7 linked regions of the Homo sapiens genome follow. The protein of the gene in region 5 interacts with the protein of the main gene of each other region in a pairwise test. Each region holds a gene or a part of one and is shown on either strand. Other genes may lie near its edges. The genes, in order: FAM117B, SEM1, BAHD1, SPATA22, DR1, LPIN1 and JADE3.

Evidence for each region.
Region 1: the proteins of DR1 (region 5) and FAM117B interact in binary tests that used the Homo sapiens proteins (3 or more experiments, as listed by UniProt).
Region 2: the proteins of DR1 (region 5) and SEM1 interact in binary tests that used the Homo sapiens proteins (3 or more experiments, as listed by UniProt).
Region 3: the proteins of DR1 (region 5) and BAHD1 interact in binary tests that used the Homo sapiens proteins (3 or more experiments, as listed by UniProt).
Region 4: the proteins of DR1 (region 5) and SPATA22 interact in binary tests that used the Homo sapiens proteins (3 or more experiments, as listed by UniProt).
Region 6: the proteins of DR1 (region 5) and LPIN1 interact in binary tests that used the Homo sapiens proteins (3 or more experiments, as listed by UniProt).
Region 7: the proteins of DR1 (region 5) and JADE3 interact in binary tests that used the Homo sapiens proteins (3 or more experiments, as listed by UniProt).

The regions. Positions count from the first base shown.
Region 1 is NC_000002.12:202,721,672-202,725,839, forward strand, and holds part of FAM117B (protein FAM117B), read left to right. Parts: intron 1-3,245; coding exon 3,246-3,338; intron 3,339-4,168.
Region 2 is NC_000007.14:96,699,383-96,703,550, reverse strand, and holds part of SEM1 (26S proteasome complex subunit SEM1), read left to right. Parts: intron 1-4,168. UniProt on the Homo sapiens protein: Component of the 26S proteasome, a multiprotein complex involved in the ATP-dependent degradation of ubiquitinated proteins.
Region 3 is NC_000015.10:40,447,327-40,451,494, forward strand, and holds part of BAHD1 (bromo adjacent homology domain-containing 1 protein), read left to right. Parts: intron 1-4,168.
Region 4 is NC_000017.11:3,461,441-3,465,608, reverse strand, and holds part of SPATA22 (spermatogenesis-associated protein 22), read left to right. Parts: intron 1-2,841; coding exon 2,842-2,902; intron 2,903-3,030; coding exon 3,031-3,126; intron 3,127-4,168. UniProt on the Homo sapiens protein: Meiosis-specific protein required for homologous recombination in meiosis I.
Region 5 is NC_000001.11:93,355,600-93,359,767, forward strand, and holds part of DR1 (protein Dr1), read left to right. Parts: intron 1-4,168. UniProt on the Homo sapiens protein: The association of the DR1/DRAP1 heterodimer with TBP results in a functional repression of both activated and basal transcription of class II genes.
Region 6 is NC_000002.12:11,752,586-11,756,753, reverse strand, and holds part of LPIN1 (phosphatidate phosphatase LPIN1), read right to left. Parts: intron 1,008-4,168; exon of another isoform or gene 890-1,007; intron 1-889. UniProt on the Homo sapiens protein: Acts as a magnesium-dependent phosphatidate phosphatase enzyme which catalyzes the conversion of phosphatidic acid to diacylglycerol during triglyceride, phosphatidylcholine and phosphatidylethanolamine biosynthesis and therefore controls the metabolism of fatty acids at different levels.
Region 7 is NC_000023.11:47,058,472-47,062,300, reverse strand, and holds the end of JADE3 (protein Jade-3), read right to left. Parts: coding exon 3,224-3,829; 3' UTR 1,059-3,223; downstream 1-1,058. UniProt on the Homo sapiens protein: Scaffold subunit of some HBO1 complexes, which have a histone H4 acetyltransferase activity.

The sequences.
Region 1 (4,168 bases), on a different chromosome or scaffold from region 5:
CATCCAGGCTGGAGTGCAGTGGAGCAAGCACAGCTCAGTGCAGCCTCAACCTCCCAGGCTCAAGCAATCCTCCCACCTCAGCCTTTCAAGTAGCTAGGACTACAGTCGTGAGTCATGAGGCCCAGCTAATTTTTTACATTTTTTTAGAGATGAGGTCTCCCTGTGTTCCCCAGGCTGGTCTTGAATTCCTGGGCTCAAGTGATCCTGTAGCCTTGGCCTCTCAAAGCACTGGGATTAGCCATGCATAAGCATGAGCCGCTGTGCCTGGCCTGACATTATTCTTATAAATGAGGAATTTAAAAATTCATATAAGAGAAGCATCTTGTAAAGATACAATTTTTTTTTTTTTTTTTTTTGGAGATGGAGCCTCTCACTGTCGCCCGGGCTAGAGTGCAGTGGCGAGATCTCAGCTCACTGCAACCTCCACCTCCCAAGTTCAAGCGATTCTCCTGCCTCAGCCTCCCAAGCAGCTGGGATTACACGTGCCTGCCACCACGCCCGGCTAATTTTTTGTACTTTTTGTAGAGACGGGGTTTCACTATGTTGGCCAGGCTGGTCTCAAACTTCTGACTTCGTGATCCACCCGCCTCGGCCTCCTGGGATTACAGGCATGAGCCACCACGCCTGGCCCAAAAAATGTTATTTAACTGATCTGAAACTTAAACATGTTTGTTTAACACCAACATATGTGATTCTGAACCACGCATACTATGCTGCTTATTCACAATAGCAACGACATGGAATCAACCTAAATGCCCATCAACAGTAGCCTGGATAAGGAAAATGTGGTGCATATACACCATGGACTACTGTGCAGCCATAAAAATAAACAAGATCATGTCCTTTGCAGGAACATGGATGGAGCTAGAGGCCATTATCCTTAGCAAACTAACACAGGAACAGAAAACCAAATACTGCATGTTCTCACTTATAAATGGGAGCTAAATAATGAGAACACATGGACACATAGAGGGGAAGAGCAGATTCTGGGGCCTTCTAGAGGGTGGAGGGTGGGAGGAGGGAGAGGATCAGGGAAAATAGCTAATGAGTACTAGGCTTAGTACCTGGGTGACGAAATAATCTGTACAACAAACCCCCATGACACGAGTTTACCTGTTTACCTATGTAACCAGTACATGTACCCTTGAACTTAAAAATTAAAAAAAAAAAATTCATTTGTTAAGGTTTTAAATTTTATAGTATTAAGTTTATTATTTTGATTTTGGTTTTTGATTTTGATACTTTATGCTATATGGTCCTATTTACATGTTGATCTTTGTGACAGGTATTTTAACAATGGACTTAAAGAGCCTGTGGATCCTAATATGAGAAATTATAAGTACAGTAGGGGTCACCTCTGGGATGTGTGACATCAGTTGGTAACCTCAAAGTGAAACTGGAGTTTAGGGTGAAATAGGGCATAGAGTGGTGGGAAGTTGACCAAATTGTAGCCCTTCCTTTTGATTCAGTGTATTTAAGGATCCTTGTCAGAATGGAGTCCTTTTGGCTATAAGGAGAAGATCCAGACCTGGGACATGACTAATTAGAATCACAGTGTCTTCATTTTTGAAAACTTTTCCTTCCCCATTTGAAACTAGACCATTTTATAATTAGTAATTGGTACGTTAATAGTGCAAAAGATATTCAAACTGCACAGTATTTTTTGGTATTTTTTATTATTTCATGTACAAAATTCAGAAGGTACAGAAGGGTATACACTAAGGGTCTTTTTCCCCAGAGACAGCCACTGGTACCAATTTTCTTTGTTACCATCTATTTTCTTCCAGATATAATTTACACACACATGCATTCTTTTTAGCAGTCCCATATAAAGGCAGTTGCTATACACACGGTACTGAGCCTTGAGGTTTTTCACTTAACAGTATATCATGGAGATTATTTCATGTCTGTATATTGTGAATTTCCTTATTCATTTTTATAGCTGCACAGTACTCTGTTATAAAGGTATACCATAATTTATTTAGCCAAACCTAAATAAATCTAACTTACTTACATTGTTTCAGTCTTACTTGTAAGAACAGTGCTACAGGGAATAATAGGCAAGTCATTTTGTACATAAAGATGTGCATTTGGTATCTGTGCAGGATAAATTGTTAAATAAGGGGTTGCTGTGTCAGTTTGCGCATTTATAACTTTGACAGCAGGTGCTGAATATCCCCCCATAAAGGCTGTATGCTCCCACTAACAATATAGGAGAGTTTATATTAGCAAATTGCTCAATCTTGTTGAAGCTTTAACTTTCATTTCCCTTCTTATCAGTGAGGTTGAGCATAGTTTCATGTGCTAGGAACTCATTTGTATTTTCTTTCCCAATACACTTTTTAAATTCTGGGTTTGGTATAACTACTTAAGGTTTAACTTTTTTTTTTTTTTTTTTTTTTTTGAGACGGAGCCTCCCTCTGTCATCCAGGCTGGAGTACGGTGGCACGATCTCGGCTCACTGCAATCTCCACCTCCCGGGTTCAAGCGATTCTCCTGCCTCAGCCTCCTGAGTAGCTGGGATTACAAGCACACGCTAATTTTTGTATTTTTAGTAGAGACAAGGTTTCACCATGCTGGTCAGGCTGTTCTCGAACTCCTGACCTCGTGGCCTGTCCGCCTTGGCCTCCCAAAGTGCTGGGATTACAGGCGTGAGCCACCGCGCCCAGCCAGGTTTAACATTTTTGAAGCTGTTCTCTGAAGATACTTATGGCAAGACTAGACATAATATAGAAGTTAATATTACAAGCTCTGGAGTCTCAGGTTTATTTCTTGGCTTTGCCGCTTGTAACACCTTAGGCAACTTACATGTGTTAAGTCAGATAAAGCATATGAAAGCACAGTGCCTAGCACATAAGAGCACAAGAATGTTAGCTATTATTAGTGTGCCTGGTGCGTGCTAATAATAACTGACATTATTAGCTATTATATGTTAGTTAACTATGGTAACTCTAGTTATTATATATAGTTAACTTTGTTCCATAAATGCTTTATTTGTAGTATAATTATAATTATGTAAAAATACTAATTTTTTATTAGCAATAAAAATGAAGTATGCCAAAATATTAATTGTAATTAATACCAGTTAAGTAACTGGTGCCAGGAGAATTTTGAGTAATTTGTGTTAATTATTTTTAATGTCTAATTTTTTTGTAATGGAAATATGTTTTATAATAGAAAAATATGGTAGACATTGTTGTGAAATGATTTTTGTTAAATACACCTCCCCTCTTTTTTCATTACAGACAGAGAGTGCATGGGCTGAAGAATACTCTGAAAAGAAGAAAGGGTCTCACAAGCGCTCAGCATCTTGGGGCAGTACAGATCAACTTAAGGAGGTCAGAAAAATGGTTCTAAGATAGTGGGTGTGGAAATATGATCCTTTTGTTGGCTATTTCCTTGATATTATGGGCAGCAAGGATTTGTCGTTTTCCATTGATTTCTTTTTTCTTTTTGGCTTCTGAAATAACAAAAACAATTATTGTGTTGATTTAATAAAGATTTCAATAGGGATATTTATATATCACTTACCTGATTATGTATGTTTGTCTTTTTTTAGGAGAATTCATACCTGTCTATTAACATCAGATTTAAAAATTGTAACAATACAACAAATTCACATTTATTCTTTTTTTTTTTTTTTTGGGGTGTGCATGTGTGTGTGTGAGACGGAGTCTCGCTCTGTTGCCCAGGCTGGAGTGCAGTGGTGCGATCTTGGCTCACTGCAGGCTCTGCCTCCCAGGCTCAAGCAATTCTCGTGCCTCAGCCTCCCAAGTACCTGGGACTGCAGGTGTATGCCATCATGGCCAGCTAATTTTTGTATTTTCAGTAGAGATGGGGTTTCATCATGTTGTCCAGGCTGGTCTCTAACTCCTGACCTCAAGCAGTCTGCCTGCCTTGGCCTCCCAAAGTGCTGGGATTACAGGCATGAGCCACCGCACCTGGCCACATTTATTATTTTTCTATATATGGTGGTGTTTCTGAAATGCAGTACTCACTATAACCATGATGGTTATGGCTCCATGCTATGATTACCATTTTCTGTGCTGCTAATTAGTGACATTTTCATTTCACACATAATGTAGAAATGCAAAAACTCGGTCAAAGAATAAATAAGATATTCATTGGAATTGCATTCGTTATTTAAAGATGATATCTGTGAATATAT
Region 2 (4,168 bases), on a different chromosome or scaffold from region 5:
TTTTTGTGTGTGTGCTAATCTATAAGATAAACTCCTAGAGAAGAATTGCCAAATTGAATTGGCAGACTCATTTTTTATAATATAATTTTTATTTTGAAATAATCTCAAACTTACAGAATAGTTGAAAGTACAGTACAAACATTTTTCTCTAAACCATTTGTGAATAAGTTGCCAACCTGATGGCCATCACTCCTGAGTATTTTAATGTGTATTTCCTACAAGGACATAGTCACAAGACAACCATCAAAATCAGGAAATTAACGCACTGATGCATTACTATAGGTTGAGCATCCCAAATCTGAAATCCTCCGGAATCTCAAACTTTCTGAGTACCAACATGAAATTTCAGATTAGGGGATTTGGGATGCCCAGTTGTAAATATATAATGCAAGTATTTCAAAATTCAAAAAAATACAAAATTTGAAACACTTCTGGTCTCAAGCATTTTGAATAAGGGATACTCAACCTGTATGATCTAACCCACAGATCACTTTCAGCTTTCTCCCATTGTCTCAATAATGTCTTACTATAGAGTCCTGGATTACATTATCTTGTCCTGTCTCTTTAGTCTTCCTTAGTCTAGAGCATTTCCTGTTTGTCTTTAACTTTAATGATTTTCACACTTTAGAAGACTACAGGCCAGATATTTTGTAGAATGTTCCTCACCTGTGCCTATTTCCTCATGATAGAAGTTCTACATTGTAGTCCTGGTGCTCTGTTCTAATGACATCTTTTTAGGTGGAACATTATTCTCATTTGTTCCATTACTGGGGATGTTCACTTCAATCACTATTAAGGTGGTGTTTGTTAGGCCTTTCCATTGTTAGGTTACTAATTTTCCCTTCCTAATAGGCAGTTTTGGGGGAGGGACTTTGAAACTATGTAAATACAGTATTCCAGTGATCATCAAACTTGTAACTTGTTCATCTTTTAAAAAATGTATAGCAGTGTGGACTAGTGGATTCTGACTCAGTAGGTTATAATTTGTAACTATTATTTGGATTCTCAGATTGTCCCATATTTGAACATGCAGAACTCCTTCAGGCTGTCTTCTGTGTCCTTTTGCCATGTCTCCATTATTCTTTGTGCATTTCCTAGCATTCTGGCACAAGGTGTATTCCAAACTAATTTTATATGTGAAATCAGCCGTTGCTCCAATGTGATTTCTTTTTAGTGGAGAATGGTATTTAGAATGCAGGGTCTTCACTTTGCTTATGTTTATTGCATTTGGGATATTCCTGCTCCCAGACCCTCTAAGTGGAAGGAACTAGGGATGTACAGGAGTGTGTGTGTGTGTGTATGTATAAAACCATGGGTTCACACAGATGTCTCCAATTGCAGTTCAACACCACTGGATTCATTCTAGTTTTTTCCCTTTCTACATTTGTTATTCCCTTCTCCAATAGTGAGAAACCTGGCTTCCATTATCTTCAATGTATTGTCTATTTGGTCATCCCCCTTCCTAACCAATCTTTGCTGCCCCCAACAGGTGCCCTTCTTGCCCAACTTGGGCTCCACATTTTATGCCAGGCCACCCTCCCATCCTCTAGTGTGGGTGACTTCGTTCTGTCCAGGCTCTGACACACCAGCCACACCATGCTGCCCCTCTCCAGGAATGCCCTCCTTGCTCTACTTGGGCTTAGACACCTCATCTTAGACCTGGCATATCTTAAATTTTGACAGATACTCTCAAATTGCCTTTGAGAAGGGTTATGCCAATTTATGTTTTCATCTACAGTTCACCTTTTCCCTCATAAGCTTGCTACACTAGATAGTAAACATGTTAGTCATTACTGACCTCATGAATGAAAAATAAAATTGTATCATTTTGATTTGGATTGATTTTTTTAAGTAAGATTAACCATTATGTTTTTCTCTGAGCTGTTACCATCTTAATCCTCAATTTCATTATCTGTAATATATGGCTAATAATATTTATTAGAGTCATGAAAGAATTACATTATTGTAATGGTTGGCCTGGGCTACCATAACAAAATAGCATAGACTGGGTGGCTTAAACATCAGAGATTTATTTTCTCACCCATTCTGGAGGCTGTGGAGTCCAAGATTAAAGTGTAGGTCGATACAGTTCTTGGTGAGGCCACTCTTCCTGCCTTGCACAAGGCTGCCTTTGTGCTGTGTTCTCTTGTGGCAGAATGAAAGAGTGCATGCTCTCTGGTGTCTCTTAAGGCACTAATCCCATCATGGGAGCCCTACCCGCAAGACCTCATTCAATCCTGATTACCTCCCGAATACCATCATATTGAGGATGAGGGCTTCAACATAAGAATTTTTGGGGGGGTTTTGGGGGGCCAGGGTACAAAGATTTAGTCCAGAACAATGATACATATGTAAACAGAGTCTGGCACAAAGTTGGTATTCAGTAAACATTAGTCTCCTTTTTTCTCTCCCCTCTAATGTACTTAGGAGTTTGGATTTTGGATGATGTTTAATATTTATTTAGAATTTGAGCTGTGTCTGACATGTATTTAGTAATTTTGAATATATTCAAAATTAAGCTTGTTAAATTTGTGAATTATTTGATAATTGATTTATTTTGCAGTATTAGAAACTTGTAAATTTAAAAAAATTGCCATTAAATGTTTTTCCACAAGTACTTAATAATGTGGTTATTCATAGAAAGACACATAAAATAGTAACATACATTATTTAGGGGTATATACAGATTGGAATGAAAAACCCCCAAATCAAGATGCTGGTGCTTGGGAAGGGATAGTGAGAGGTGTGAACCAGGATATTAAACACTGAAAAACTCTTTGAAAAACTATTTGGTTAGCTATTTCATTGGTTCTATGGAATGAGCAAGCAGTAAGCAATTGTGGTTTAAGTAGTGTTTAATGTTACTACTTGTTTGTTAAACATTACTCATTGAAAGATGTGATGAACTGCGAAAACATTGAGAGGAAAATAAGTTTCAAAAACTGTATACAGTTGACCCTTTAACAACATGGTTTGAAGTGTGAGGGTCCATTTATACACAGATTTTTTTCAACTAAATGGGAAAAGGAAGTACGATATTCACAGGATATGGAACCCACCTGTAGAGAGGGCTGACTACCACTTGGCTAACCATGGGACCTGAATATACATAGATTTGGGTATACTTGGGCTGTCCTGGAACAAGTACCCCGAGTATACCGAGGGATGAGTGTACTCTTCTTCATAAGTATTTAAAATTTACCAAATATCCTTAATCCTTTGTCTGGTTGTGTACTCTGGTGTACATGTAATGTTTGGTGGAAATTGTATTGTTTATATTCTAGGACATGTTTCTCTACTCACCTCTCTCATCCCACAAATTGCCTTTCCAGTGATTAGCATGTATGTAATAAAGGATTTATTCATTTGACATGTATTTGTTGAGTGTTTCCTATAAATCTGGTACTGAAAAGTACAGAGAGAATGGTATTAGCTGCCATTTATCAGTACTAAGTGCTTTACATACACAGTGTCATTGAGTCTTCATAGCTCTTTGAGGTATAAGTTTTATACCTAGGGATCAGAAAAATTTAATTTACCCAAGGTCACAGTTAATTAGAGGCTGTCTTGAAGCAAATTTGACTTCTATAGATATTTGTCTTTGAACTTAGTAAGTAGTAGTTAAGGGAGAGAAGAATCAGTGGTTTTAACACCAAGCTAGAGTGCTTTAGTATTTTGGAAGTGTTTATCCTGGGGTGGGACTCAAAGCCCTTTTCTCCCTACCACCAATTAAACCATAGCAACATTGCCTTTGTTTCTCTTACCTGTTGGGCTTCTGAGTAAGATGTAATTTGGTTTCCTTCAACTGATAGTAAAGTGCAACAGCAGTTCAAAAGAAACAGATTACTTCCAGTTATGTACAGTGCGAGGTAGCAACCTTTGAACAGGGCTTTCAAAAGAAACGTAGGAAAGGGGTTTTCAAAAGAAGGGAAAAGGTGTAGGTGCTTTGAAGTGAAAAATAAATGTGTATGTATATTGTATTTGCTTATGAAATAGTAGTTGCAAATGCAGGTGGTTTGTGGCCTCAGCATGGAAAGCTTTAAGCCTCTGACCAGTTTGGACTTAATCCTTAATTAACTAGATGAGAAGTGGTTTTTAAAATGTTTTGTTTGTTTTGCTTATGACAGTGATATGTGTAAGTTTCCTTTAGGCAATATGCTGAAACATT
Region 3 (4,168 bases), on a different chromosome or scaffold from region 5:
GAGGCTGAGGCGGGTGGATCACTTGAGGTCAGGAGTTCAAGACCACCCTGGCCAACATGCTGAAACCCCGTCTCTACTAAAAATACAAAAATGAGCCGGGTCTGGTAGCATACACCTGTAATTCCAGCTACTCAGGAGGCTGAGACAGGAGAATTGTTTGAACCCAGGAGACAGAGGTTGCAGATCGCGCCAGTGCACTCCAGTCTGGGCGACAGAGCAAGACTCTGTCTCCAGAATAAATAAATAAATAAATAAATAAATAAATAAATAAATAAATAAATAAATAAAAATAAAAATGATTGAATAACTGAGAGATGATTTCCAGAGAAATTGAAAGGACTTGAATTTATTTGGCCCAGAGGGAGGTAGACAAGGGGCAGTTAATATGTCTTTGCATGTTAAGATGACAGTTTAGAGCATGATGACCAGTTTTTAGTCTTCATTGCAGTCTGGGCTGGAGGCAGGGAATTTCACCTGAGACAAGAGGTATTGGGTAGATGCATGGTTGGGGGTTACCTTTTTCTGGATTTACTATAAAATCAGGACAACGTATCTTTGAAGCTCTCTCATTTATTCATTTATTTATTTAGCCCAGACTTCTTAGCATGTCACCCTTTTCTAGGATATAAAATGTTTGTTTCGGCCAGGTGCGGTGGCTCACGCCTATAATCCCAGCACTTTGGGAGGCAGGCGGATCACGAGGTCAGGAGATCGAGACCATCCTGGCCAACATGGTGAAACCCTGTCTCTACTAAAAATACAAAAATTAGCCGGGCATGGTGGTATGCGCCTGTAGTCCCAGCAACTCAGGAGGCTGAGGCAGGAGAATCGCTTGAACCTGGGAGGTGGAGGTTGCAGTGAGCCGAGATTGCGCCACTGCACTCTAGCCTGGATGACAGAGCAAGACTCCATCTCAAAAAAAAAAAAAAGTTTCTTTCAAAAAAAATTTTTTTAATTGTATTTACGTTCTAGCCCATAGATGCCATTTAATTGGAGTACATCTTCAGTTCCTCTGTGGTGGGAAAACTAATAATGTGTGGTAATGCCAATAATTAAAGCACAGAAAAATAAAACTGAACGTGCAAGTTATCTTGCATCTTGGTCTGTGATCCAGCAGCCATCCTGTGATGCCCTAAGTAGAGGCAGTGTGTTGCAGTGCAGGAAGTGTGGGCCTTGGTGTAGATGCCAGGATGGCTCACCTCTGTCCTCAATCCTAGCAACTTTTTATTTTTTAAGAGCCAGCTCTGTCACCGAGTCCAGAGTACAATGGCATGATCATGGTTCATTACAGCTTCCACCTACCGGGCTCAAGTGATCCTCCCACCTCAGCCTCCTAAGTAGCTGGGACTACAGGCACACACCACCATGCCCGACTAATTTTTTATTTTTGTAGAGACAGGGTCTCACTGTATTGCCCAGGCTGGTCTTTTAACTCCTGGCCTCCCACAGCACAGGAATTCTAGGTTACAGGTGTGAGCCACCACGCCCACCCAGCATCTCCTTTTAACTCTTTTTTTTTTTTTTTTTGAGACGGAGGTTCACTCTTGTTGCCCAGGCTGGAGTGCAGTGGTGTGATCTCGGCTCATCGCAACCTCTGCCTTCCAGGTAGCTGGGATTACAGGTATGTGCCACCACGCCCAGCTAATTTTTGTATTTTTAGTAGAGACGGCTAATTTTTGTATTTTCTCCATGTTGGTCAGGCTGGCCTTGAACTCCCAACCTCAGGTGATCCACCCACCTCGGCCTCCCAAAGTGCTGGGATTACAGGCGTGAGCCACCGCGCCCAGCCTTCCTTTTAACTCTTTGTACCTGTTTTTTTTCCTTGTTAGGATGAAATGGTAACAACTAGCTCATAAGGCTGTTGGGAAGATAAATGAGATAGTGAATGTAGTGTGCTTAGGACCTTGCCAGGTGCATAGTGAGTGCTTGACAAACATTGACCATCCTTTTACAGTAGTCACCTCTGCAGTGAATCAGAAATTTCCAACCCTGCACACTTAGGGTGTCTGGGGACTGATAATGCTAACTTTAGTTCTTTGCTCCTGATTTCACCTATCTGTGACATTCTTTGTCTTGATACAAGTGTCTGTAGTACTACATTCACTTGCTTAATGGTTTAGGGGCAGCCACAGCCAGTGGAATGCTTTCCAGAGGTAGCTGGGCAACTTGGGAGAGAGAAGGAGGAGGATGAGGCCAGGCATGGTGACTCATGCCTGTAATCCCAGCACTTTGGGATGCTGAAATGGGAGGATCACTTGAGGCTAGGACTTTGAGACCAGCCTGGGCAACATAGTGAGACCTTGTCTCTACAAAAATAAAAATAAATTTAAAAATTAGCCAGGCATGGTGGTGTAGGCCTGTAGTCCCAACTACTCGGGAGGCTGAGGTAGGAGGATTGTTTGAGCCCAGGAATTCGAGGCTACAGTGAGCTATAATTGTGCCACTGCCCTACTACTGCAGCCTGGGTGACAGAGCAAGACCCTGTCTCAAAAAAAAAAAAAAAAAAGAAAATGAAAATTGATGGTAATGAAGGAGGGTTGTGCCATGAAAATACAAGAGATTTCCTATTGTAACCTTGTTGCACTGTGGATTAAATTGAAGATGCACAGTGGACTCCTGGGGATGGAGGAGAGTTTGGAGGTCAGAGGGCTCTTGTCTTGAGCTCCAAGTGGTGCTCTAAGTCTAGGATAAAGATTTTACACAGGGTGGGGCAGGTGGACAGCCAGATCTTCATTTATTCTTACCAAGCTCTTATTAAGTCATGTGGGTGGGATTTACTGTTAAGGAAGGCAGAGCCTACCTGTCCCCATAGGGCTGGCATCCTATTGGAGGTGGCACTAGCCACTTAACTAGTTAAGTGAGTGATATTTGGGTAGGGTGCCCATAACTCTGATACGATCTGCCTTGCGATTCTGCTCCTGCTAGTGGAGTGTGGGGGAGGCCTGGTCTTGGATCTTGTTCCTCACAGCTGGTTCATTCAGGAGGTTAGTGCTCTGCTGAGGAGGCTGGAGGCAGAGCTCCATCTTGGCCTGGCTGGCTAGTTTCTGTTCAGGACTAGAGCTAGCACCTGTAGTCTTGGCAAGCCATTTTAGAAATCTAAGTTGTTGGTCCATGTAATGTCCTGGTGGTTGAACCAACACTCGTTCTTTGCCATTCCTGGGCAGGTGCTTGGAGAAGGCTGGTGAGCTGTTCATGTTTTTTGAAGAATGGTGCATCAGTAGCACAAGGTTTTCCCTGGTTCTGCTGAGGCCTGTTGCTGAGCTTTGGGGTGCCCTGTCCCCTGTTTTATTCCTGTTTTATTTCTCCCACATTGTTAGCTGCTCAGAGCAAATGGGTTTTGCTGCAGGTGTAGGTTTGCCTCTGGCTGATCCTGGGCAGTATGGCATCTGGATGGGAGGGTCTGAGGGAGCCTTAGCCCAGAGTTAAGGGGTGCCCCCCAACCCCTGCCTGGAGTCATCCTACATGGAGCTAATAGGGGCGAGTCTGGGAAAAGTTGCATTTGTTTCCTGCTTTAAGACTTTAGCTTTTGGGCCGGGCTCAGTGGCTCACATTTGTAATCCTAACACTTTGGGAATCCGAGGCAGGCAGATCCCTTGAGGTCAGGAGTTTGAGACCAGCCTGGCCAACATGGTGAAAACCCGTCTCTGCTAAAAATACAAAAATTAGCTGGGCGTGGTGGTGGGTGACTGTAATCCCAGCTACTCGGGATACTCCTGCTGAGGCAGGAGAATCACTTGAACCCAGGAGGCGGAGGTTGCAGTGAGCCGAGATCACGCCATTGCACTCCAGCCTGGGCAACAAGAGCATAAACTCCATCTCAAAAAAAAAAAAAAAAAAAAAAAAAAACTTTAGCTTTTGTTTGTCACCCTTTCCTGCATCCAAACATTTATGAAATGAATTTCTCAGAGTGCTGCCCACTCCCTACTGGGCTTTTGTTCCCACGGTACACGTGGCATAAAGTAGGCCCTCAGTAAGTGTCTAAATGCCTGGCTCATATGTACCCTCTGAGAAGCTGCCTTGGGGGGACCCCTCAGCCAAGCTCTGAGCAGTCCATTATAGCCCTTGTCACACTATCTTGTTCTGTCTTCCTGCTAGCCCATGCTCCAACTCTTAGTCTTTTGCATTTTTTTCCAGCACTTAGTCTGGTGCTTGTAGGGGAAAGAGAAAA
Region 4 (4,168 bases), on a different chromosome or scaffold from region 5:
GAGTGGTGATGACTCTTAACGAGCATGCTGCCTTCAAGCATCTGTTTAACAAAGCACATCTTGCACTGCCCTTAATCCATTTAACCCTGAGTGGACACAGCACATGTTTGAGAGAGCACAGGGTTGGGGGGTAAGGTCACAGATCAACAGGATCCCAAGGCAGAAGAATTTTTCTTAGTACAGAACAAAATGAAAAGTCTCCCATGTCTACTTCTTTCTACACTGACACGGCAACCATCCGATTTCTCAATCTTTTCCCCACCTTTCCCCGCTTTCTATTCCACAAAACCGCCATTGTCATCATGGCCCGTTCTCAATGAGCTGTTGGGCACACCTCCCAGACGGGGTGGTGGCCGGGCAGAGGGGCTCCTCACTTCCCAGTAGGGGCGGCCGGGCAGAGGCGCCCCTCACCTCCTGGACGAGGCGGCTGGCCGGGCGGGGGGCTGACCCCCCCACCTCCCTCCCGGACGGGGTGGCTGCCGGGCGGAGACGCTCCTCACTTCCCAGACGGGGTGGCTGCCGGGTGGAGGGGCTGACCCCCCACCTCCCTCCCGGACGGGGCGGCTGGCCGGGCTGGGGGCTGACCCCCCCACCTCCCTCCCGGACGGAGCGGCTGGCCGGGCAGAGGGGCTCCTCACTTCCCAGTAGGGGCGGCTGGGCAGAGGCGCCCCTCACCTCCCAGACCGGGCGGCTGGCCGGGTGGGGGGCTGACCCCCCCCCACCCCCCTCCCAGACGGGGTGGCTGCCGGGCGGAGACGCTCCTCACTTCCCAGACGGGGTGGCTGCCGGGCGGAGGGGCTCCTCACTTCTCAGACGGGGCGGCTGCCGGGCGGAGGGGCTCCTCACTTCTCAGACGGGGCGGTTGCCGGGCGGAGGGTCTCCTCCCTTCTCAGATGGGGCGGCTGGGCAGAGACGCTCCTCACCTCCCAGACGGGGTCGCGGCCGGGCAGAGGCGCTCCTCACATCCCAGATGGGGCGGCGGGGCAAAGGTGCTCCCCACATCTCAGACGATGGGCGGCCCGGCAGAGACGCTCCTCACTTCCTAGATGGGATGGCGGCCGGGAAGAGGCGCTTCTCACTTCCTAGATGGGACGGCGGCCGGGCAGAGACACTCCTCACTTTCCAGACTGGGCAGCCAGGCAGAGGGGCTCCTCACATCCCAGACGATGGGCGGCCAGGCAGAGACGCTCCTCACTTCCCAGACGGGGTGGCGGCCGGGCAGAGGCTGCACTCTGGGCACTTTGGGAGGCCAAGGCAGGCGGCTGGGAGGTGGAGGTTGTAGCGAGCCGAGATCACGCCACTGCACTCCAGCCTGGGCACCATTGAGCACTGAGTGAACCAGACACCGTCTGCAATCCCGGCACCTCCGGAGGCCGAGGCTGGCGGATCACTCGCGGTTAGGAGCTGGAGACCAGCCCGGCCAACACAGCGAAACCCGTCTCCACCAAAAAAATACGAAAACCAGTCAGGCGTGGCGGCGCGCGCCTGCAATCGCAGGCACTCGGCAGGGTGAGGCAGGAGAATCAGGCAGGGAGGTTGCAGTGAGCCGAGATGGCAGCAGTACAGTCCAGCTTCGGCTTGGCATGAGAGGGAGACCGTGGAAACAGAGGGAGAGGGAGACCGTGGGGAGAGGGAGAGGGAGAGGCAGAGGGAGAGGCAGAGGGAGAGGGAGAGGGAGAGGGAGAGGGAGAGGGAGAGGATCAGTGTTTTTTTAAAATGTTTGTCTTGATCCATTAATCAGTCTGAGGTATAATCGATCTTTGAAAAAAGAAATAGAAGAGAATAGAGTAGAATAGAAAATACAGCCATGCACTGCATAACCATGTTTTGGTCAATCACACCACCTGTGTGATGGTGGTGCCATTACAAATATAATGGAGCTGAAACATTTCTGTCTCCTGGTGACATAGTAGCTGTCATAATGTCATAGCACAGTTTATTTTTTTTTATAAATGTAGCCTAAATGTATGGTGTGTTTAGTGTACAGTAGTGTATACAGTAATGTCCTAGGCCTTCGTATTCACTCACCACTTAATCACTAACTCACCCAAAGCAACTTTCAGTCCTGCAAGCTCCATTTATGGTAAGTGCCCTCTTAGGTGTATTGGTTTTTATCTTTTATATTATATTTTTACTGTACCTTTTCTATGTTTAGATATGTTTAGATACACAAATACTATTATGTTACAATTGCCTGTGGTATTGAGTACAGTAACATGTTGCACAAGTTTGTAGCCTAGGAACAATAGGCTGTAACATATAGCCTAGGTGTGTAGCAAGCTGTACTCTCCAGCTTTGTGTAAGTACACTCTATGTTGTTTGCACAACAAACTCACCTAACAATGCATTTCTTAGACTGTATCCCTGTCATTAAGTGACACATGACTGTGTCAGTGTGTATCACACATATTAAGGATAAGATTTGATGAAGTTTTATATTCTTTTTTCTCCTCTCTATCTCTGTCTCACACATATATCATGCATGTATATGTTCTGAGTTATGATGTATTTCTTTCTGTGGGTGAGATTTTAAAAGTTCAGTAAACATTGGATTAGATGAAATTCATGTTACAAAGTTAAAGATACTATACTAGAACTGATTGTAGAAAAGATACAGATTAAATTATCTTTGCTTAAAATACAATGGATAAGAAAGACATCTATAAAAATTAATAAAGCAGGCTGTGACAGGTTTTCCAACAAGTACTGTTGAAGAAATCCATATATTCAAGTTTTTTCTTCTTCAAGTTTTTAAACCCTCCAAATTAAATAAGTATGAATTTATCATTTTGAAAAATACTACCTATCTTACTTTTATCTATGTTACTTATATCTTTTGAGATTGGGCCTGGGAAGCTGTGAATCCAGAGTTGGCTCCTGTAATGAAAACAGTGGACACCGGGTATGTGGAGAAATATAAACCATTGGATGTGTGTCTGTTACTAACTGATGTTGTTCTTCTACGTATATCTTAATTTCTCAATTTGAAAGCAAACTATTAATATTTAACAAGACATATTCCCTTGAAAGGCAAATACCACATTCAGTTTCTCGTCCTCTGAGAAGTCAAGATTCTGTCTTTAACTCTATTCAATCAAATACTGGAAGAAGCCAGGGTGGTTGGAGGTGAGTCTACTTAAAATTTCTTTCTTCTTCTATTCCTTCTCATTTTCCTGTCTTCCTCTTCATTCTTCCCTCCTCCTTCACTTCGTTGTTTCTCAGACAGAATTACATTTAGGAAATTTCTATAAATAACAACTATGGCAGTATTAATTATGTTTTATGAAAGAGCTTAAGAGAACATGCATGTAAAACTTAAAAAATATGTAAATTTCACAGTGATTATGCTTCAAAAGATTCTTAATATGACAATGAAATTTCTGCCAATATTCATTGCTATGAATTTATGATTTTGCTTATGGGTTATTAATGATTTAATTGACAATAGACAGGAATCATATCTTAGTATTGATTATATTTAGGACTTGAGAACCAATTAGAGTGCTCAGTCTTATCCTGTAAGACAGCCGGCTTCAAGGTAAACGGAATGGCAGAAGAAAGAAAAATGGAGGCTGTGATGCATATGCATCTGCAATAGTAGGGGCTCAAGAAATGAAGAAGCTGGTCAAAAAGATGGTGAGGGTTCTTGCCATAAGGACCAAAGCTTAATGTTTAAATAGTATGAAAAAATTGATAGAAAAAGAACATGGATTTCTCTTGGTTGGATTTTAGTAGCCTTGGATAAATGGCAATATAGAAGGAAATGATTTTGGAAACAAAGTGCTGGGAAAACAACACCAAATCAGTCACTGTTAAGTGCTTTGATATGTTATTTCAATAATCCTTACAACAACCATATGAAGTTAATACTATTCTCATTTTTATTATATAAAGATATCGTATTTTTTTAAAAGGGGGAACTTTTTATATAGTTGTTAATAAATACATTGAAATAATATCTTTATTTAAAAATTAGTTTTGATTTTATTATTCATGCTAGTTTCCCCAGGACCAGTCTGTCAGTTTCTTCATAACAAGGCCTTAAAACTAGGCCTGTTCAGTGGTTTGGGATGGTTCTTAGAGACATTGTTCCAACTGCAGGAGCTAGAAGAAAATCCATTCTGACAAGCATTAGACAGATAATTAGGTAAACAGATTGTAATCTGGA
Region 5 (4,168 bases):
CCTTGCCAGGGCAAAATATAAAGAAATAATTGACTGCCTGCTATATCTGTCTTCACCTTTCTATCCCTATTATCTGTTTTTTTATTCCTCTTTTTTGTCTCCCTTGTTTCTTACCCTGACTTATGTATGAAGATCTCTAGTATTTCTTTACTATTGTGAGGATGACCAGCGGAGAGGTAATATTATAGCAGTTGCCTAGTACTTCTTCCCTAGAGCACTGAAGTTCTAAATATGAAAGAGTGGATAAGTAAATATATCTTTTTTATCACTTTCATTTTGTTTCATTTTTTAGACTTTAAATATTAACACAATGACAGCCTCATTTGAAGCTAGCAGCAAATATTTGGAAGGAGGGAACCTTTAATACATCAAGATTAAAGTTAACTTTAAATTATAAATGAGTCATTTTAATATGTGGGAGTGAGAATCTTAAAACATAATGAAAACCTCCAAAAGAAAAGTGAATTAGGAAATACATGCCTGCTTACCTGTCTTTCACACCCCAATTTTAGAAGAAAAATACTTGGGATGGATTGAGTAGGGGGCAAGAGAGAAAAAAATATATTACAGTAAATATCACTGAAAAATGTTCAATTTGTGGAAATGAATACAAATAAAATTTTATCAATCAACTTTTTTTTTTTTTTAAAGAGACAGGATCTCACCATGTTGCCCAGGCTGGAGCACAGTGGCTATTGACAGGCTCGATCAGGCACACTTCAGCCTAGAACTCCTGGGCTCAAGGGATCCTCCTGCTTCAGCCTCATGAGTAGCTGGGACTATAGATGTGCACTAGTGAGCCCAGCTCAACAGTTAGTTTTAAAGGCATAGAAATGTTTTTATGTTCAGAGAAAAGTATCAGCGCTGATACAGGGCCGTGGTAGCTAAAAGTCAATTAAATTTGAAATGTAACTAGTACACAGCTTTGCAGACCATTGAATAGACTACCAAATCAAGCACCTTTGCAGTAAAACCTTTGTAGAGACTTGAAATTATTTGAATTTTTTCCATGTCACAAAATTATACCAACTTGTAGTTGATTAGACCACAAAATATAGGTATGCTTATGTTGGTTGAATTTATGTATTTGATTTGCCCTGCAATTTTCTTATGAACTCTTACAATTTTTTTTTTTTTTTTGAGATGGAGTCTTGCTCTGTTGCCCAGGCTGGAGTGCAGTGGTGCTATCTCGGCTCATTGCAACCTCCGCCTCCCGGGTTCAAGCGATTCTCCTGCCTCAGCTTCCCAAGTAGCTGGGATTACAGGCATGCACCACCATGCCTGGCTAATTTTTGTATTTTTAGTAGAAACAGGGTTGCATCCTGCTGGCCAGGCTAGTCTCAAACTCCCAACCTCAGGCGATCCGCCCACCTTGGCCTCCCACAGTGCTGGGATTACAGGCATGAGCCACCGCGCCCGGCCTTAAAATGTTTTTAGCGAAGCTCTGTTAGTTGGTTTTGAACTCTGGATATTCCTGCCGTAAAAGTAAATATGCTATTGTGTTAGAATCAACTATTTTTCCTATTTCTTTACAAAAATGGATGACAGTCATTATTAGGGAGAATGGATGGTTTCTAATTTCCTAAGCAAAATGAAGTTTTTGTTTACTGTAAAAGTTGTCTTATCCTTGTTTTTTCTAATATCTATAGTCTTTTCCTTACTTATTTCTTCCTCTTTGCCTTTAACCATATACGGGTCTTCTGCATTTCCTTGTATCCCCCAAACCCTTTCATCTTTTGCTATAATGATCTGTGTTACCCACCAAGCAAGGTGGCACCTTCCTGTAGTCCCAGTTACTCGGGAGATGGAGGCAGGACAATCCCTTGAGGCTAGGAGTTCAAGGTTGCAGTGCATAACAACTATGCCTGTAAATAGCCACTGCACTTTAGTCTGGACAACATAGCAAGACCCCATCTCTAAAATAAATAAATAAATAAATAAATAATGATCAGTGCTACCATTTTTTGAAAATGTACAATCACTTATTCCTCAAATTTAACTTCTGTCCTACCACAGAGGCATTTAATCACCAAATTCAGTAATTTTTTTTCCTTTCAATTCTTACTCATCTGTTTTTTTAAAAATAACATTTAATGTAGACCTCTTCCTTTATTAGTCTCTGATACTATGGTTACTTGGATAGCTTTCCCCCAAGGTAATAGCTTTTCTTCTTCCACTTCACTACTGCCACCTACACCAGCACCACCCTACTCCTGCCCTTCAGTCAACAAATTTCAAGTCAGAATTCAATTAACATGTCCCTACTGTATGTAAGACATATGTGGTACTATAGATATAAAAAAAAATGAAGAATATATCATTATGAGACTGACTACTTGGATGAGGAAGATAACTATAATATGAGGCTGACCACTTATGAGAAAGAGATTCTGGCTGGGCATAGTGGCTCACACCTGTAATCATAGCACTTTAGGAGGCCCAGGTGGGAGAATCACTTGAGCCCAGGAGTTTGAGACCAACCTGGGCAATATAGTGAGACCCTCTCTCTACAAAAATAGAAAGAAAGAGGGAAGAAGGAAAGAGAAAGAAATCCCAAGTATGGAAACATTACATCAAATTTTAGGGGTACAGGAGTATGCCAACTAGTAAGCAATTATCTTAGCTCCAGACCCACCTTTCTATGCTCTGCTTTGTGACTGGACCTAGTACTCTGCAAGCCACATGTTTCTTTGCTAGCTGACTCTCCATTAGACTCTGTTGCCATATGGGGCTATCGTGGGAGATTGCATGGATGGAGGAAGAGAAAGGGTTTTCTCTTACTTTCTCTTGTCTTTCAGTTCCTTTGAACAACCCAGCAACACTTCTTCACCCTGGTTGCATCAGTTTTCCTGTAGCAGAGACTGAACGCGGTTTGCATTTTCTCTAATACACCACCAGCCTGAACCCGCACCCCATCCCCCCACTCTGGCAGTGTGGATCCCAACCCTTGGGGCCCTCCTCCAAGCGCAGATATATTAGTACTAGCTTATCTATGCCCATTCTTCCGAGGCCTGAGTTTCAGTTCCATGAAGTGGTTTCTTAAGCTTCTAAATTTTAAAAATTCCAGCATTTTCCTTTATTCCCTCAGTTTTAGGGTTGGTGGCTGCTTCCTGTAGCTGCTACTTTCATGACATCTTCATGTTCTCTTCCTGCCTTTTCAGCTCCCTAATAACAACTTTATACTTGTTTAACAATTCTTCGTATTAAATTTTTTCCATTCCAGTAACTCATGTGACATCTATCTCTTGATTATACACTGACTGATGCCAGGAGGAGAAAATAGTATTTCAGTTTGACTTGAAGGAAGGGTAGAATTTCAGTAAGTGGCAGGAAATTTCACATAGGATGAGTGTCAGCATGAGTAAAGGTAGCAAAGATGAGGAAGTATGGTGTATATTTGGGAAACATTTTGTGTTCTAGGCTTTTTTGAAGCACAAAGTACATGTTACAAAAAAAGACTATAGAGAGGTTGGGGTAGACACTAATTTGGAAGACCTTGAACTCTAGGCTAGGAAATTTGGATTTGATTGATAACAAATGATTTTTTTTAAAAAAATGAAATAGTGACCTGATTAGAATTTATATCTAGAAATGTTTGGATAATAAAGTCATGACAGATTATTCAGAAGAGTGAGGATTGTACATGGTAAAATCTTAAATGTTACTGGTTATGCTGGGCATCACTGTTTTCCTGTAGCATGTTCATTCAGAAAATACTGAGGGCCTTTATGTTAGGAATGCAACAAAGAATATGGAAACAATCTCTATTCTCAAGTGTGGTGGAAAAAAAGGATATAAACTTAGATAATTCTAGAACAAAGTGGATGGATATGGGAATGCATAGGGAATTATGGTATATTAAATAGAGCATAAAATATGGCTTGGAAAGGTCAAGAAAGACTAGCTGATTTGCATTTCAGATGATGACTAGGAATTAGCTATGCATAAAGGGGAGGGTCTGAGTTGGACTTAAAGAACAATTCCAAGAACAGACAGAGAAGGAGAAAAGGATTGTTTTGGCAGAGTCTAATGGGAAATTGTAAGACCTTTTTAAGAACAGGTTCATTTTTTCCCTTCTTGGTGTGGTTTTTCTGCAAACAGATGAAATTAAATTGTGAAGGAGCCTTAGCTGTTTCATAGGTAATTAATAATGTATGCATCCTGGTTT
Region 6 (4,168 bases), on a different chromosome or scaffold from region 5:
TGACATTAATAATAAATAGCATACTCAACTCGAACAGCATCGATTATTAAAAATAAATATAGGGGCCGGGCACTCACGCCTATAATGCCAGCACTTTGGTAGGCCAAGGAGGGCGGATCACCTGAGGTCAGGAATTCGAGACCAGCCTGGCCAACATGGTCAGGCTCTCTACAAAATACCCCATCTCTACAGAAATACAAAAATTAGCATGATGGTGAGTGCCTGTAATCCCAGCTACTCGAGAGGCTGAGGCAGGAGAATTGCTTGAACCCAGGAGGCAGAGGTTGCAATGGGCTGAGATCACGTCATTGTACTCCAGCCTGGGCGACAGAGTGAGACTCCATCTCAAAAAAATATAAAATAAATAAATAAATAAAGGGATTTGAATTATTTTAGTCCACGCCTCTTAATGGACAATTCAGGAATCTGCTGTTCCACTCATTTATTATGCAAGTAAATAACAATGATTTTAATTCCCTTTCTAGTTCCTTCAACTAGAACATTACCTAAGGCACGTTATCTGGGACATAACAGTGGGTCCATTTTCACATTGTGGGTTTGCTCCTTGGAAATGAAATGATGTCATGGTAAGCAACATCTAATTATATATAAGACTGGCCGAGCAAATGCAAATGCAAAACTGTCTCAATAAATGTACTCTTACAATCCCCGTTTTTGTTCATCTTTCTCACTTGTACTTTTCTTCCTACTCTCCTTTCTTTAAGAACTAAGTGGCCAGGCGTGGTGGCTTATGCCTGTGATCCCAGCACTTTGGGAGGCCAAGGCGGGCAGATCATGAGGTCAGGAGACCGAGATCATCCTGGCTAACACGGTGAAACCACGTCTCTACTAAAAATACAAAAAATAAGCCAGGCACAGTGGCACGCACCTGTAGTCCCAGCTACTCAGGAGGCTGAGGCAGGAGAGTCGCTTGAACCCAGGAGGCGCAGCTTGCAGTGAGCCGAGACGGCGCCACTGAACTCCAGCTTGGGCGACAGAGCGAGACTCTGTCTCAAAAAAAAAAAAAAAAGAACTAAGTGTCTTGCAGGAGTTGAACAATAATTACCCCTCAAATCTGGATTTCCACCTGCCTCCTCCATTTCCTCCCCCGGCTGTCCAGGTATATGACCCCTTCATAAACATGCCCACACAACTCTATCTTTCAGCCTCAACCTTCTCCTCAGCCCTCCAGCCCAGCCATCCAGGGCAGTAGCTTGATCAATATTACTGTCATTTGTCAAGTGGCTGAACAGACATCTGTCTACCAAGTGAGTCTTCTCTCCTTGAGGACAGGGACGAGGCTTGCTCATTTCTGACGCGGTACCTGCCCCATCGCAGGGCCCATCTCAAGCAAGAAACTTTTATTTTTGGTCCCATCACGACATTCCAGAGTGTAAAACAGCAAGATGCACCCACCACCCTCAAAGTAGCTTGGCAAGTCGGGGCACGAGGGGGAAAAGCACTAAAATTTAAAAATGAGAAGAAATGGCCGGGCGCGGTGGCTCATGCCTGTAATCCCAGCACTTTGGGAGGCTGAGGCGGGCGGATCACGAGGTCAGGAGATCGAGACCATCCTGGCTAACATGGTGAAACCCCGTCTCTGCTAAAAATACAAAAAAGATTAGCCGGGCATGGTGGCGGGCGCCTGTAGTCCCAGCTACTTGGGAGGCTGAGGCAGGAGAATGGCGTGAACCCGGGAGGCAGAGCTTGCAGTGAGCCGAGATCGTGCCACTGCACTCCAGCCTGGGTGACTCCGTCTCAAAAAAAAAAAAAAAAATTAGAAGAAATGAAGAAGACAGCAGGAATTGTTCTCTGCCAGAGCATAAATTTCACAAGACAATGCTCCCAAACAAAATTCACTGCAAACAGTTTAAATAAACAGCTGTGACACCTAAGGGTAAGACTGAAAAGCAGAAATGACACAAAATTGGGGGTCGGAAGGCCTGGCTGTGAGTGTTAACTTCTGGCATTTACCAGCTATGTGTGTGGGAGCAGGGTATTAACACAATGGCTCTGACTGAGCCCACCAGGCTGTCATCCTCAGTGGTCAACACAACGACTAGTTTGGAAAGGTCTTTGCTCCTGGACAACACATGCAAAATCTTATTATTGTCATGACCTCCCATAGGAGGTGGCTACAGAAGCAAGGCTCAGGGTTGGCCCTGGATGTGACACCTTCAAAACTGCTCTCACCCGCAGCATCACCACTCCCTGACAGAGCCTCTCAGAAGGTAAAGTCAAAAGCCATTGTTCAAAACCTTCCCTACAACCCTTAAGGACTTAGAAAGGCCGAAACACCCTCCTGGGTTCAGTCTGTGATTGAAGACTTCTCTGGCACTTGCTCAGCTCCGAGTGATTCATCATTTCCTGGAGAGAAGCTACCCAAAACCCACTCACTGCCCAGAGAGCAAACACGATCTGTCACATCTGCCCTCACGGCAGGTGCTTAAAGGGCACCTGTGGGCTTAAGGCACATCCAAGGAGCCTGGTGATTCAAAAGCCAACCTAATATCACTCTGGGATGGGGTGCCCCTTATCTGTGTTCCTGTTATCAGCAGGAAATTACAGCTCTCAGATACAGACCTGGCTGCTGCTCGTGGGGCCAACGGATCATGTCAGGACAACTAAATGACCACCCCTGGCACCCTTCCTCTAGGGAAGGCACTGTCGGCTCCCCAGCTGGGCTTGACAGGGACGATTTTGGGGCTTCCTGCTCACTGCCCTAGCCGCCCTCCTCTGAGCACACTACAGTCAGTGTCTCAGCACCTGGGGACTCTATCTGTGGTCCGCCCAGCACTGGATAAAGTCACAAACATCACGCTGTTACTGGTGTTCGCCGAGATCACATCCACCTTGGAGGTTTACAAGACAAATGAGGATTTTCATCCAAAGCATTTAAAAACACAAAAAGCTTCTAGGAAGTGCCCAAAATGGTATCATGACTAATAAGACTTGCATGAAAATGAAATTGATTTATAAATAGTGTTAGCTTCCTCCTGTAATTTACACTTACGGCAAAGAGGAAGTCTTTTCAGAGCATTGTGGACTGATACTTAACGGCGGTTGATAAGGGTGATGAATTACCTGTGACAAAAGAGGAAGTCTGGCTCAGACTCAGGGTGATACAGGGAAAGGAACACAGACAGAAAGTCAGGCCACCTGGGCAGCAGCCCACGCCCTGCTGTAACTGGCACACACTTATAGGCAGCTGCTGCCCTCTGCCAGGTCTGGATTGACTGAGTCCACCAGCGTCCCTGTGGTTAAACTGTCCTGGCCAGAGTGCCTTGAGGAGCTTCTTAAACAGAAGAGCACAGCTCTGCATCCATCACTACCTGCTGGGAAATTGGGGACTTTCTTGGCATGCCAGGGTTCGTGAGACATTCCCGTCCAAAATACAAAAACTCACTAGAAAAGCTGGAGATGCTTTAAAAGGCCTGCAGGTCAGAGGCCCTGCAAGTCAGAGGCCTTTTAAAGGTCTTTCAATACTTCCTGACAAAAGTGATGAAAGAGCAAAAACAGCCAGCCCTGGGGTCCCGCCACCAAAGCCCTGCCTGTGTTAGGCAGGTGGGAAATTTTGCAGCTCTTGCAGTGAGCTTCCAGGGTGGCAAAGTGGCAGGCGTCTCCTCCTCCAGCACACCCCCACCCTGCTCATCCCCCTCCTTGCCCAGGGACAGGAGGGCGTTCCCATAATTAAGCTCATCTGTAGAACTCCAGCACACAGCAGACGCTCCAAAGCATTCACGACCGCAATTTCATACAGTTCCAGAAAGGACAGCACTGCGGACACTGTCAGGATGAGGTGACAGAGGTCACATGGTTTCTTGCCTCACGATTAAATTAGAAAATTCCACATTTATTCCAAAATTGGCAGAATCCATCTCCAGGCTTCACAAATTGCCAAGAAACGCTGCTTTCTTGGAACTGCCAAAATTCAAAACCCCTGCCACAGCTTTCCTAACCCCACAATTTTTGCCAACACCAGCCACCTCTAGAAGATTAAGGTCAGTTTAAAATGGCCTTGGAGGCCGGGCGCGGTGGCTCACGCCTGTAATCCCAGCACTTTGGGAGGCCGAGGCGGGCGGATCACGAGGTCAGGAGATCGAGACCATCCCGGCTAAAACGGTGAAACCCCGTCTCTACTAAAAATACAAAAAATTAGCCGGGCGTA
Region 7 (3,829 bases), on a different chromosome or scaffold from region 5:
TTTGTTCCAATCTGTATAGTATAATTAACCGTATTCAAAGGAACTTCTTTTACAGTGCTAGATTGTTATAAAGCTCCCACATAGAAGTGATAGCCTCAGGGTGGGTCTTTATTAACTAAAAATTACTTAAAAAAATCCAAGCTTGCATGGTTGTTAGTTAAAAGAATAAAAAAACCCCACACAATTGCTGCTTTCTATTAATATTAAACTTGAAAATAGCTGAATTAAGGTTGTGAAAATCTAATAAAATTTATAAATAAGTTAGATTTTTTGGAAAATATCACATGAAAGCTATTCAGTGGTAAATAAGTTTTCATTTCTATCATGTACTTTTCCTCAATTCTGAAAGGTCAGCAAGCATACTGAGGATTTTAAAGTCCTAGAAGGAAAATAACCCAGGATTGTGCATTCTTTGGCTTATCCTCTGAATTTAAAGTTGCTTCAACACAAGGACAAAGATTCATCTCCCATTGGAAATGTACACATTAGTATAAACTCAATAGCTTTTGTTGGCTATAACAGGGTATACCTGTAGTTTCAGTTCTCTAGCAGAGAGAGAGAGAAAGAGAGAGAGAGAGAGAGAGAACCAACTTCACCTTTTACCTATCTTCACTACTGATTTACCCAATGACCTTTGGCAAGTACATTTTTCAATCATGAAAATGTTTATAATGCCTAAAAGCCCCCCTTGACACCACATAACCCCATGACATCAACATACTCACAAGACTCCAAATAGAGATGCCTGACTGAAGCCTTTTCAATCTTGTCACTTTAGATAGGATCTATCTCTCTGGTGATGTTTTATGATGATCCTAAGGCCTTTATCTTAACAGTCTGATAAAATCATGATTTCTGGGTAAAGTTCAAGTATCCAGAGTTCTCCTGGGTCCCCGGTATTGACTCGAATGTTGAATGTGTGCTTCTAAACATTCAATTCCTCCTCTTCCTCCTCCCTCTCCCCACACTATCTGTTTTGTTCAGTGAATATAATTTTTTAAATATAAAAGGAACATGTGTAACCAATATGCCAAAATAAAAAACACACTGACAGTAGGTAGCAGTTTTCATAATTTAATGAAAAAGTATTGGTAAAAAGGGGACATTTGAAAAAGGACTGAGCTTATCTTGGAAAACTGGACTATATAAGACAAAATGAAAAAAATTAACAAAGAAGGTTAAGAGGTAATACTTCAAACAACAAAATGTAGCAAATACATTTTGGGGTAATTGAAATTTACAACTGAAGGCTCCTTCATTTACCTAGGAATATCCTGTAAAAATATTACAACTATATTTCCCTGACGAATGATATTTTAGTCAATACTCTCCCAATGGCATTACATATGGAATTTGGCTGAAGCACTGTTTTGATGTTTGCTTTTCCTCCCACTCAGAATTGAAAGGCATGAAGGGACAAAGGCTACCGCACTGGCCTCTGACATAAGGAATTTATAACACAGCTCCATCATAATTTCATTACCATGAAGGTATCAAATTAATATCTACTCCAGAGAACTCAAAGAAAAAGCACAGAAACCTAGTGCATAAATAGGGGAAATTCTCTTCCTCATTTTGATAGTTTTTTTCCCAAACAAAATACAGGACACCTACCACACATGCTATGGCATGTTTACACATGTACATAGGCACAAAAGAAATATTTTGAAGATGTAGCCAAAAGAGAGGCAAAACACATACATTTTCAGAAAAGGAGAAAGCAAAAAGCAAAGGAACCCATTAACAACGTTACAAGAACACAACTGGGGGAGAGGAAAACTGCTGAGTTTTCCATATTGACGGAGAGAGGGCCCCTGCCTTGACTGACTGGCACCTACTACAACTGGGCTGTTTCACCAGTAAGAAGCTTTAAAAATGGAAAATGGCCTCTTTTGTCTGAATATTCCCACTACACTTTCCAAAACTAGAAGAAAGAGAATATTAATTTAAGGCTAAGAAGAAAAGAGAGCTGAGAATTATAGTCTGCTTCACATTTAAAAAACGGCATCATTTCTCTCTTATTTAAATGAGAAGCAGACATGTTTTTATCCACCCCCCCCCCCGCAAATGTAATTATTCTCTTCCTACTAGAAATTAATCAAGGCTGATAGTTTGGGAACAGGGTATAAGCAACTTCTGAAAAATGGCTCCAGCCTTTTTGTTTGGGAAACTGCCTCAGATTCAAAGGTGACACAAAGCTAAATTATATCCATGTGTTAAACACATGCTTTCAAATTCTGTTTGACAATAAAAATCTGTTTCAAAATTAAAGCAGGTAAGAATACTTAACCTCTGTGCATTTTACTATATTTTAATTATACCTCAATAAAAATTTTATAAACATTAAAGCAGGTATACAAAAACTGTCAGCCAAACTTATTTTAGTCAAACTTATTTGAAAACAACACAAAAACCCTGACCTGGTACAAATACCCCAGAAATGGTCTCACTTTGGGAAAGGCTCTGGAATCCTTCACAAATGCCTAAACAGAGAATCAGAGCATTTTCCTTGGAAGTAGTACTTTTGTACTTTTGTAAACACTATCCACAAGTTAGCCTTTTATGCTTGTCAGTCAGGTGAAATAGTTATGAGTGTGTCCCCAACAAGCAAGTTTAGGAACAGGCACTGGACACTGATAAGCATGAGGAGTATTGACTCAGTAAGTTAAGATACTGTGAAAGAAACTCAACCTTGTGCAGAACAAAGGAAGACAGTAGTGAGTTTGACAGTATCTAAGATGGTGGTCTCCTGGTCTCTCCCCTGAAAAGGGTTTATAGATACCAGTGGAATTAGAAACTTCCTACAGACAGGAGCTCTGGGGAGTCACATGCTGTAGCTTCAAAAGATAAGTAGTTTTAGTGTCTGATAATCATGGTCTCTTGCAAATCAGTTAACAATGCAAGGACTCTTAATACATATACTTGTCAATGTGTTATATAACCGGAAAGCTGCCCCAAAATATTTACTGAGCAAATACCCTGGGCCCAGCTGTTCCCAATAGCCTCTGACAAACCAACCTCTGGACAACCTGCAATTACTGTAATGTGCTTGTAAAAACTAGACTTGAAACATTTTCAAAAACTGCAAGACAATTTACTATGGAAAAATGTTATCCTTTTCACTGCAATTCCTCTTAACATATGCTAAAATCCTTTTGGTGTATGGGTTTTCCCCAATATATGGGGCAAAGGCAAAGGTTGGGTCATCCTTGGAAGTTTCTAATCACCTTTGCATTGAACTGTGGGAAAGGGGATGTGTCTTGCTTTTACCATGGCAATCCCGTCTAGAGTCATGGGGAGGATTTTCCCTGTCTGAGCTATCTTTCCTTACCCTGACTTTTTCTTTATTCCCATCACTTTCTGCCTCTGAATCACTCAGCTCCAAATCTGGGCAATAGCCATCATTTTCCTGATATGGAGCTCTCCCTGCAGACCGCCTGAGAACCTGTCTACCCCAGAACTGCTCCTTGGGGCTCATATTCTTGGTTGGCTTCACATAGCACTGGAGGTCCTCTGTGTTCTTCACCCACCTATTGGTGGTCTCTTTAAAGGACCTACTAAAGTGTTCTACAGTGGATTTTCTAAAGCTGCCCTGACTGACCAAGTGGGGGCTGAACACAGGCTCCTGGTCACAGAACATCTCACTCGAGCTGTCTTTTTGGGTGACATTCCCAGACCAGCTGCCCTCCAGGCCATTGGATTTGGCAAACTTGGAGTTAGGCTGACTTTTCCCATTCCCAATGGAAGACTGTCCATGGAGGGCAGCCTGAAGGACCAGAGGCTTTCCCAGTGACTGCCCATGATAGCACTCCGAGGACGGGGTTCTCCA